Linked DNA regions of Homo sapiens. The protein of the gene in region 1 purifies or fractionates together with the protein of each later gene. This does not show direct contact. Each region holds a gene or a part of one and is shown in the gene's direction. Other genes may lie near its edges.

Region 1 (2,853 bases):
TGAAGAGGATTATGAGGGGACCAGGGTGGGGCAGGGAGATGGTTTTGTCTCCCAGGGTCCTGAGGTTTCCTTGCTGGGTCGGGGTCCTCAGGTCATTCTATAGATAAAAGAGGGAAAATCAGGAGACTTTGAATCTTTCTGTATAAAAAGGTCAGCTGAATGCCTGAGACAGCCCAGGTGGCAGGTGTCTTGGAGCCCTGTGAACAGTGAGGCTTAAGAATGGAGAACAATCAGGTCGGGGTCTGGGCCCCATTAGTGACTTTATATCCTCCCATAAAAGGTAACTTCTTCCTAGGTGTTACCATTTTTCTTTTCGTTTTTTGTTTTTGTTTTTGTTTGTTTGTTTGTTTGTTTGTAATAAAGCACTTTAATGCACATTACCTGCCATCTGCCCAGTGAGGACTGCAGGGCTATAGCTTCTATCTCCCCATTTCCCAGGTGAGAGAACCAAGGCCCAGCATTTTAGTCACTCTTGCTCAAGGTTTTTTAGCAACTAACAGATCGAGTTGGGCCTTCAATTCACATCCACTGACTCTCAGCCCAGATTATTTTGAATATTCCCTGCACAATAGGGTTCACCCCACCCAGGACTGTCATTTTTAAAAAACTCATTCAAACCGCAAAGGAAAATTTCTTAGCAAAAGAACAATGTGTTGGAGGATGGGAAGGGGCGAGAGAATGCCATTTATTTTCCTCTAGCTGGTTTCCAGAGAGGAAATTATTTAGCTGCTCTCTTTTGATGAAAATAATCACTCTTTGGAATAGTTGGATGTGAAAAGCTGAGTCTACTTGGTTGAAATGAGAGCAAACAGTCAGCAAAGCCTTTTGCATTAGAGCAGGGTCGTGCTTCCGAGAGAGCCTGCCATTTCCTCTTTGCCATCTGCATGTGGCCCCTTCTGCCTCCAGACATTTGTCCCGGGGTGAATCGGAGATGTGGTGCTAGCTGAACCAACACCAAACCAACGCAGTGGTGCTGCCTTGCGGCGGAAGTTGGCTCCTGAATCTGGGATGGGAACCTGGCTCCAAGCCTGGGTCCCCTGGGAGGGTGGGGGTACCCAGAAAGCCCTTGGAAGTTCTCGGGGAGGTGCTTGGAGATCATTTGGGTTTACCTTTCCACCCACATTTAATGGAGAGAGAGTATGGGCTTTATGTTAAGTCATCTTTGACTTCCTTTTTGTAGCTTGTTTTTAATAGCAGAGGTCACCCGGGACAAGGGTGCTGTGTACTGTATATGACACTTGACGCTTTTGATATTTTTTCAGGTTTTTAAAGAATTATTATTTTTCATGAAATGTAAAATATCAGTTTGAGAACATCACATTTACGTCTACTCAATGTCTAGTTATTTAGCACCCACCTTTTAGCTTTCATTCTAGATGAAAACGAGACAAGGGAGAAGGAGAGCTACCAACTCTTGCCAGATATCCTGCTGAACAGAAATCCCTGAAGCTGCCTTAATTCTCAAAAGGAGTTACCGCTCAGCTGGGAGCCAGTTCCTGCTATATGATCTGTTTTCTAGCCTCGCTAATGTGAGACTGAAGCATTCTTACCAAAGAAATCATTTCCTAGTAAAGAAGCCCATTGAACTCACTTTATTTGTTTATTTCCTTCGAAAGCCACCGAAGAGAGAAAAACAGAGAAGGTGTGTAGTGTGGCGGAAAAAGCACAGCATATAGTTTTACAGACTTGGGTCTGCAGCTGACTAGCTGGGTGGCCTGGGGATAGTGGCTTCATCTTTTGGGGCTTCAAGATTCTTTGTCTTTAAAATCAGGGGTTATATCAGATCATCAAAGTTCCCATTCCATTAAAGAAAACCCTGCATGTATCCATAATGATGCTCTCCTGTTAAATTTACAATGAAGGAAACACATCACTTAACTGTAAGAATTTCCCAAAATGAACTGATGACCAGTGATCTCTCTATCAGAGAAATGTCAGATTTCTAGCCTCCAGAACTTTGATTTTTCTGGACATTCAATAGTTCCTCTTTCTCAGATATTTTTCAACTGATGCCAGAAACACTTGGTATTTGTTTTTAATCCAACCCTTTTGTTTTGAGGCTTTGGAGGGTAACACATTTTCATACCCTGTGAGTCCCAGGATCCACAGCTCTGCTGTGGTCTTAGAAGCCACTGAAACATTGGTGAATGTGAAGTCACTTTTGGGGTGCCTGCCCTCATCCCTCTGTCTCTCTGCTTCCGTGTAAATAAAGACTGTTTCAATTGTGTCCTCTCTGTGTCATGGACTGTTCCAATGTCATGCAGATTTCTGTGTCTGATATGGATTTTAAAAGTTGTTCTCTTTGTGGAATATAAGTGTACAGAATAATAAATAATGTTTCCTGGGCTGTGTATCTGGTAGCAGAGTTCTGAATGCTTTCTTCCATGAAGGTGGAATGCTACAAATTATGTAAGGGAGGTGGGTGTATCTATGATCAGCTTCCAACTAGTAAAGAAGAGCGTCTGGTCATAGTGACCCACCTTTTAATCAAATAACTCTTTTTATAACCTATGGAAAAGGAGATTGGAAGGAGTTAAATCTGTAATCTTAGCTTTGAGATTAACATATATTTTTAAATAAAAAGAGGGCACCAAGTGATACCAGGTTTAGTTTAGTTTAGTTTTCATTTCTAAGGCTGTTTCAAGGAGCTCAGAACCTCCTGTTGGATTGAATTAAATACACAATTTGGTGCATGTGTGAATTTTTCTGGGGAGAGGGATACATTCACATTTAGACCTTAGAAGATCTAAGTCTTTGTTTGGGGAAGATGTAAGCTGAGTATTGTCATTGTTTGGAGAAGATGTGAACTTATAGGTAATTATTTTTAATGCAAGCCAGCAAATAGATAGTGAT
Region 2 (3,730 bases), on another chromosome or scaffold:
TACTGGATTTAGCACTAGTTTCGAAAAATCGGATTCCATGCTCTCGAGCCAACTTATCGGCCTGCTCCTTCTGCACCTTCCTCTTGGCCTCCATGTCACATTTGTTCCCTAGCAAGAGGTGCTCCACCCCAGCTGAGGCATTCTCCATGATGCTTTTCATCCAGTTCTGAATATTCTCGAAAGATTTCTCATCCGTGATGTCGTATGCTAGGATAATGCCCATGGCTCCACGGTAGTAGGCAGTAGTTATTGTCTTGAACCGCTCTTGGCCAGCTGTGTCCCAGACTTGTAGTTTGATCTTCTTCCCCTCTATATCCACAGTGCGGATCTTGAAATCAATTCCGATGGTGGAGATGTAAGTGTTGTTGAAGTTGTCCTCTGCAAAGCGAATGATCAGACAAGTCTTGCCCACCCCCGAGTCCCCGATCAGCAGCAACTTGAAGAGGTGGTCGTAGGCTTTGGCCATGGCGGACACCGGGGGAGCCGGGGAAGGGATGGGGCTATTTATTTATTTTTGAGACGGAATCGCTCTGTTGTCCAGGCTGGAGTGCAGTCGTGTGATCTCGGCTCACTGCTACCTCTGCCTCCCAGGTTCAAGCAATTCTCGTGCCTCAGCCTCCTGAGTAGCTGGGATTACAGGCACGCACCACCACACCCAGCTAATTTTTGTATTTTTAGTAGAGACAGGTTTTCACCACGTTGGCCAGGCTGGTCTCAAACTCCTGACCTCAGGTGATCTGCCCATCTCGCCCTCCCAAAGTGCTAGGATTACAGGTGTAAGCCACCACGCCTAGCCCAAATTGACTAATTGTATGTGTCTCGGTTTCCTCACCTATAAAATATAGAGACTGGACTAAATGACCTCTAGACTGGCTCTGATCTGCCTGACTGACCTTAAGGCTGACAACTGGTACTGGGTTGGACTCCAGTGGCTATATATACCGAGAACTCTGTCTCTGTTGATAGGTGATAGACTTCTGGAGACTTCATATGTATTTGGTTTAGGGACTCAAAGCTAACAAGTGGAAGGGGGCTTGAGGAATGGAGTCTTACTCTAGCTGGGACTGCTAAGACACTTTTACTGTTATGCCTACTTTGCTGCACTGCTTGGGAGAGTTGCCCACATTAAAGAACATCCTCCATGGGTCTCCTGCATCTAGTGGGCTAACCCATGGTCAGGCCTCAATCCTCCCTAGTTAATGGGTCATTTTATAAGTCATTCTTGTAGAGCCGTACTTCTTTTTTTTTTTTTTTGATGGAGTCTTGCTCTGTCACCCAGGCTGGAGTGCAGTGGCAAAGTCTCGACCCACTGCAGCCTCTGCCTCCCAGGTTCAAGCAATTCTCCTGCTTCAGCCTCCCAAGTAGCTGAGATTACAGGTGTCAGCCACCACACCTGGCTAATTTTTGTGTTTTTAATAGAGACGGGGTTTCACCATGTTCGCCAGACTGGTGTTGAATTCCTGACCTTAGGTGATCCGCCCACCTCAGCCTCCCAAAGTGCTGGGATTTCAGGCATGAGTCACTGCACCCGGCAGAGCTGCACTTCTAAGGGAAGTTAAATCTGATTTCTTCTCTTCTGAGCTAAAAAGGTTGAAAGGAAGAGAAACCTGCCCCATCTCCCTTTTTTTTGTCTCGGGTTTGAAGGTAATAATCATCATACCACTTGACTGGTTTACCAAAAAAAAAAAAAAAAATTAGTATTTTTGTGGGAAAAAATGAGAATAGAAAATAAATAATTGAATCTTATATGTATTATTTCATTTCTGTACCACAGAATTTTTGAGAGTCTAGCTATTATATTTTTTAAATGATACCCTTATAAACATGATAAGATTAAAGATCAAAGCTTAGAGGTGGCTCAACAATTGCTGTGAACAGGGAGGAAGGCAGGACATATTCTTTCTTTTTCAGAGGTGGGATCTCACTATGTTGCCCAGGCTGGTCTCAAACTCCTGGGCTCAAGTGATCCTCCTGCCTTGGCCTCCCAAAATGCTGGTATTACAGGCGTGAACCATGATGTGCAGCCAGAACATACTCTTAAGGCTACATATTAGGGTACGAGGTAGTCTTTTCTAAGTCAGTAGTTACTGATCTCTGAGAATCCAAGGTTGCTTAGTAGCAAGAAAGCTTGCTGACCACATCTGGGCTCTGGCTTGACTTCCCATCTCTGAGAGTTAGTGACAGAGACTTTGCAACTCAAGCGTGTCTGCAATTGTTTCCTGTCTTTACACTCCCCCAGAGCTCAAGTGATATGTTTAGCCATGAGAATTCAGTCCATTCTAACTCCCACATTTTCCTTTATTGTAGAGTAGTAACATTGAGGCTTAATATTCTACCCCTTGGATCACATGCTTTGAAATACATAAAAATGTAAGGGAGTAAGTTGAAAAAACCAGTAACTTTTTCTATTGTTTCTTGAGAGTATAGCATATATATGTCACCTGAAGGAAACTTGATCAGCTTATCATCTGTCCTTTTTTTTTTATTATGGTGTCACCTGTCTTCTCTTTTATTTATTTTTTATTTTGAGAGACGGAGTCTTGCTCTGTTGCCCAGGCTGGAGTACAGTGGCATAATCTCAGCTCACTGCAACCTCCGCCCTCTGGGTTCAAGCGATTCTCCTGCCTCAGCTTCCCAAGTAGCTGGGACTACAGGCATGTGGCGCTACACCCAGCTAATTTTTGTATTTTTTAGTAGAGACGGGGTTTCACTATATGTTGGCCAGGCTGGTCTCAAACTCCTGACCTCTCAAACACCAGAGTGAGACTCTCTCTAAAAATGGAAAATAAATTTTAAAATGTTATAATTAAAGATACTCATTTAAATTGAATAAATTTAGCTTTATGAAAAATTTGCTGTATCATCTTTATTTTGATCCTTTCGTCATAGGCCATTGAAAACTTAATCATAAAATGGTACATGTATATCTGAATTTTTAAGACTGACTGACCAAGGGGACTACAGAATACCCAGTAGAATCAAAGTAATTGTCATGTTCCTCTGTATTAATCTAGTCTACTTTGGGACCTTGAGTTCTCACCTCTCATTCTTTTGCTAACTTCCTCTTTACCCTTTAGTTATGTCTCCTTTTTTTTTTTTTTTTTTTTCCAGAGATAGCGTCTTGTTCTGTCGCCCAGGCTGGAGTGCAGTGGTGTAATCAGCTCACTACAACCTTCAACTCCTGGGCTCCAGTGATTCTCCCACCACAGCCTCTGGAGTAGCTGGGATTACAGGCACATACCACCATGCCCAGCTAATTTTTTTAAATGTTTTCTAGAGACTCAGTCTCGCTATGTTGCCTAGGCTGGTCTCAAACTCCTCACCTCAAGCAAGGCTTCCCCTTTTATCTCCCAAACCCCTGGGATTACAGGCATGGGCCGCTCTGCCAGGCCTGTTTTTTCTCTTTTTCTTTCTCTGTACCACTTTCATATTGTGGCTTCTTCCCTGCCCCCGATCTCCCCCCTACCCACCCCAGGTGGAGTCTTGCTCTGTTACCCAGGCTGGAGTGTGGTGGCACGATCTCGGCTCACTGCAACCTCCGCCTCCCGGGTTTAAGCAGTTCTGCCTCAGCCTCCCGAGTAGGATTACAAATGCCGGCCACCAACCACACCCGGCTAATTTTTTTTTTTTTTTTTTAGACTGAGTCTCGCTGTTGCTCTGTCGCCAGGCTGGAGTACAGTGGTGCAATCTCAGCTCACTGCAACCTCCACCTCACAAGTTCAAGCAGTTC
Region 3 (3,730 bases), on another chromosome or scaffold:
TCCCTAGGTCACAGAGGTGCTCTGCGAGTGTTTTCCTCCTAAAAGAAGAGGACCGCACCTTCCCAGGTGTTTTCACTGATTCATTCTCCAGTTATTGATAAGCACCCACTCTTTGCCCAGCCTGTGCCTGGCCTTCATGCATGATGGTGTCTAAGACAGCCCCCGTGTCCATTCTCCCTCCTTACCCTGGCCTCTGTCCCCCACAGGTGACCAGCAATGGCAGCATCGGGAGGGACCCGCCAGCGGAGACCCAGCCTCAGAACCCACCGGCCCAGCCGGCACCCAATGCCTGGCAGGTCATCAAAGGTGTGCTGTTTAGGTGAGCAGACGGGACTTGGGTTTGTTCACCGAAAACATTCAAATAAAAATAAGGAAGAAAGGAAAAGTCAGCTGATCAGCTGAGGATGGTGATCATTACTGTATGGTAGAGTTGCTTTTTTTCTTTTTTTTTTTGTATGATGGAATGTTTTCTAAACCTTTTTTTTACTCTGGTAAAACATACTGAAGTAGGGAGTCTCCCTGAACCTGTTCTGGTTTTTGGGGGGCTACCTGATTTGTGAAAAAATAAAAACACAAAAAATACTGAAGTAGTTTGCTAGGGCCCTTGTATCAAGTAATATAGACGGAGTAGCTTAAACAACTGAAATAGGAAATTCATTGTCTTACAGTTCTGAAGGCTGGAAGTCCAGGATCCAGCTGTGGGCAGGGGCAGTTTCTTCTGTGGCTTCTCTCCTGGGCTTGCAGAAGGCCGTCTTCTCCCTGTGTCTTCATGTGGTCTTTCCTCTGTGTGTGTCTGTGTCCTAAGCTCCTCTTATGGGGACACTAGTCATACTGGCTTAGTACCCACCATAATGACCTCACTGAACCTTACTTTTTTACAGACCCTATCTGGGCCAGGCACAATGACTCACCCTCATAATCCCAGCATTTTGGGAGGCCAGGTTGGAAGGACTGCTTGAGCCCAGGAGTTTGAGACCAGCCTGGGCAACATAGTAAGACCCTGTCTCTACTAAAAATAAAAAAATCTGGCTGGGCACGGTGGCTTACACCTACAATCCCAGCACTTTGGGAGGCCGAGGCGGGTGGATCACGAGGTCAAGAGATCGAGACCATCCTGGCCAACATAGTGATACCCCATCTCTACTAAAAATAAAAAAATTCCGGAGGCTGAGACAGGAGAATGGCGTGAACCCGGGAGGCGGAGCTTGCAGAGAGCTGAGATCGCGCTACTGCACTCCAGCCTGGGCAACAGAGAAAGACTCCGTCTCAAAAAAAATAAAAAATACAAAAAAAATACAAAAATTAGCTGGGTGTGGTGGCACGTGCCTGTAGTCCCAGCTACTCAGGAGGCTGAGGGCAGGAGAATCGTTTGAACCCAGGAGGCAGAGGTTGCGGTGAGCTGAGATCGTGCCACTGCATTCCAGCCTGGGGACAGAGTGAGACTCCATCTCAAAAAAAAAAAAAAAAAAAAAGCCAGGTATGGTGACACGTACCTGTAGTCTCAGCTATTCAAGAGGCTGAGGTAGGAGGATCACTTGAGCCTTGGAAATTTTTTTATTTTTATTTTATGTATTTTTTTTTTTTTTTGAGACGGAGTCTCGCTCTGTCGCCCAGGCTGGAGTGCAGTGGCACAATCTTGGCTCACTGCAAGCTCCGCCTCCCGGGTTCACGCCATTCTCCTGCCTCAGCCTCCCGAGTAGCTGGGACTACAGGCACCCGCCACCACACCTGGCTAATTTTTTGTATTTTCAGTAGAGATGGGGTTTCACCGTGTTAGCCAGGATGGTCTCTATCTCCTGACCTCATGATCCGCCTGCCTTGGCCTCCCAAAGTGCTGCGATTACAGGTGTGAGCCACCGCACCCAGCCTATTTTTATTTTTGTAATGGAGTCTCGCTCTGTTTCCCAGGCTGGAGTACAGTGGCGCGATCTCAGCTCACTGCAACCTCCACCTCCTGGGTTCAAGCGATTCTCCTGCCTCAGCCTCCTGAGCAGCTGGAATTAAGGTATGTGCCACCATGCCCAGCTAATTTTGTATTTTTAGTAGAGATGGGGTTTCTCCATGTTGGTCAGGCTGGTCTCGAACTCCCAACCTCAGGCAATCTGCCCGCCTTGGCCTCCCAAAGTGTTGGGATTACAGGCGTGAGCCACTGCACCCAGTGCCTAGCTAATTTTTGCTTTTTTTTTTTTTTATTAGAGATGGGGTTTCACTATGTTGACCAGGCTGGTCTCGAACTCCTGACCTCATGATCCACCCGCCTCAGCCTCCCAAAGTGCTGGGATTACAGGCGTGAGCCACTGGGCCCTGCCTGACCCTCAGAAGTTGAAGCTGCAGTGAGCCGAGATCACACCACTGTACTCCAGTCTGGGCATCAGAGTGAGACCTTATCGCAAAAAAAAGTTGGGGGGACCCTGTCTCTAAATCTAGTCACGGTGGTACTGAAGGTTGAGACTTTAACATATGAATTTTGGGAGACATGATTCAGCCCACATCTGCACATAACATCAAATTTACCATTTTAACCTATGTTTTCATTTTAACCTTTTTTTTTTTTTTTTTTTTTTTTTTTTTTGAGACAGCGTCTCACTTTGTCACCCAGGCTGGAGTGCAGTAGTGCAATCTCGGCTCACTGCAGTCTCTGCCTCCTGGGTTCAAGCGATTCTCCTGCCTCAGCCACCTGAGTAGCTGGGACTACAGGCACCTGCCACCACGCCTGGCTAATTTTTGTATTTTTAGTGGAGATGGGGTTTTGCCGTGTTGGCCAGGCTGGTCTCTAACTCCTGACCTCAGGTGATCCACCCGCCTCAGCCTCCTAAAGTCCTGGGATTATAGGCGTGAGCCACCACGCTTGGCCCATTTTAACCATTTTTAAGTATGTAGTCCTGTGGCATTAAGTACATCTCCACTGTTGTGCCCCCATCACCATTATCCATCCCGAGAATTTACTCTTCCCAAACTGAAATTCCATACCCATCAGACACAAGCTTCCCATTTCTTCCTCCTTGCAACACCTGGCAGCCACTTTTCTATTTCCTGTCTCTCTTTCACTACTCTAGTTAGCTCCTGTATGTGGAATCAGACAGCATTTGTCCTTCTGTGACTGCCTGGTGGTGACCCTTTTACCTGTGGGTTCACATGCTATTCCTGGGCAGTGGGACCCCAGGGCCTGTTTTTTCAAAGCCCAGCTTCTGTTTGAGGCCCTGGGGAGATGCTGGGTGGTGGCGGGGGAATATGCTTGGCACTGGGTTCTATCCTTCCTGCCTAGACCTAGTGACAGTCACCTTCTTTGCTCTGAGCCTTTGTTTACTCCTCTGCAAAATAGATATTCCTTTTATTTTTTTTTTGCTTTTTGGAGATGTATTTTAGCAAAATAAGAGACCACACCATGCAGTTAGGCAATCAGCTTCCCTACTTATGAGATAGAAGGAATTGCACAGCAGAGATGTTTACAACAATCATCCCGCCAGGTGCGGTGGCTCACGCCTGCAATCCCAGCACTTTGGGAGACCGAGGCAGGCAGATCATGAGGTCAAGAGATCGAGACCATCCTGGCCAATATGGTGAAACCCCATCTCTACTAAAAATACAAAAATTAGCTGGGTGTGGTGGCACAAGCCTGTAGTCCCAGCTACTCGGGAGGCTGAGGCAGGAGAATCACTTGAACCTGGGAGGTAGAGGTTGCAGTGAGCCAAGATCGTGCCACTGCACTCAAGCCTGGCGACAGAGCAAG

Evidence for each region.
Region 2: the proteins of SLC6A2 (region 1) and RAB5B purify together in Homo sapiens (affinity purification with mass spectrometry; one large-scale study listed by BioGRID and IntAct). This does not show direct contact.
Region 3: the proteins of SLC6A2 (region 1) and CLPTM1 purify together in Homo sapiens (affinity purification with mass spectrometry; one large-scale study listed by BioGRID and IntAct). This does not show direct contact.

What each region holds. Positions count from the first base shown.
Region 1 is NC_000016.10:55,703,840-55,706,692, forward strand, and holds the end of SLC6A2 (sodium-dependent noradrenaline transporter), read left to right. Parts: 3' UTR 1-1,376; coding exon of another isoform or gene 1,377-1,433; 3' UTR 1,434-2,353; downstream 2,354-2,853. UniProt on the Homo sapiens protein: Mediates sodium- and chloride-dependent transport of norepinephrine (also known as noradrenaline), the primary signaling neurotransmitter in the autonomic sympathetic nervous system.
Region 2 is NC_000012.12:55,980,568-55,984,297, forward strand, and holds part of RAB5B (ras-related protein Rab-5B), read left to right. Parts: intron 1-3,730. UniProt on the Homo sapiens protein: The small GTPases Rab are key regulators of intracellular membrane trafficking, from the formation of transport vesicles to their fusion with membranes.
Region 3 is NC_000019.10:44,961,757-44,965,486, forward strand, and holds part of CLPTM1 (putative lipid scramblase CLPTM1), read left to right. Parts: intron 1-206; coding exon 207-319; intron 320-3,730. UniProt on the Homo sapiens protein: Involved in GABAergic but not glutamatergic transmission. Binds and traps GABAA receptors in the endoplasmic reticulum (ER).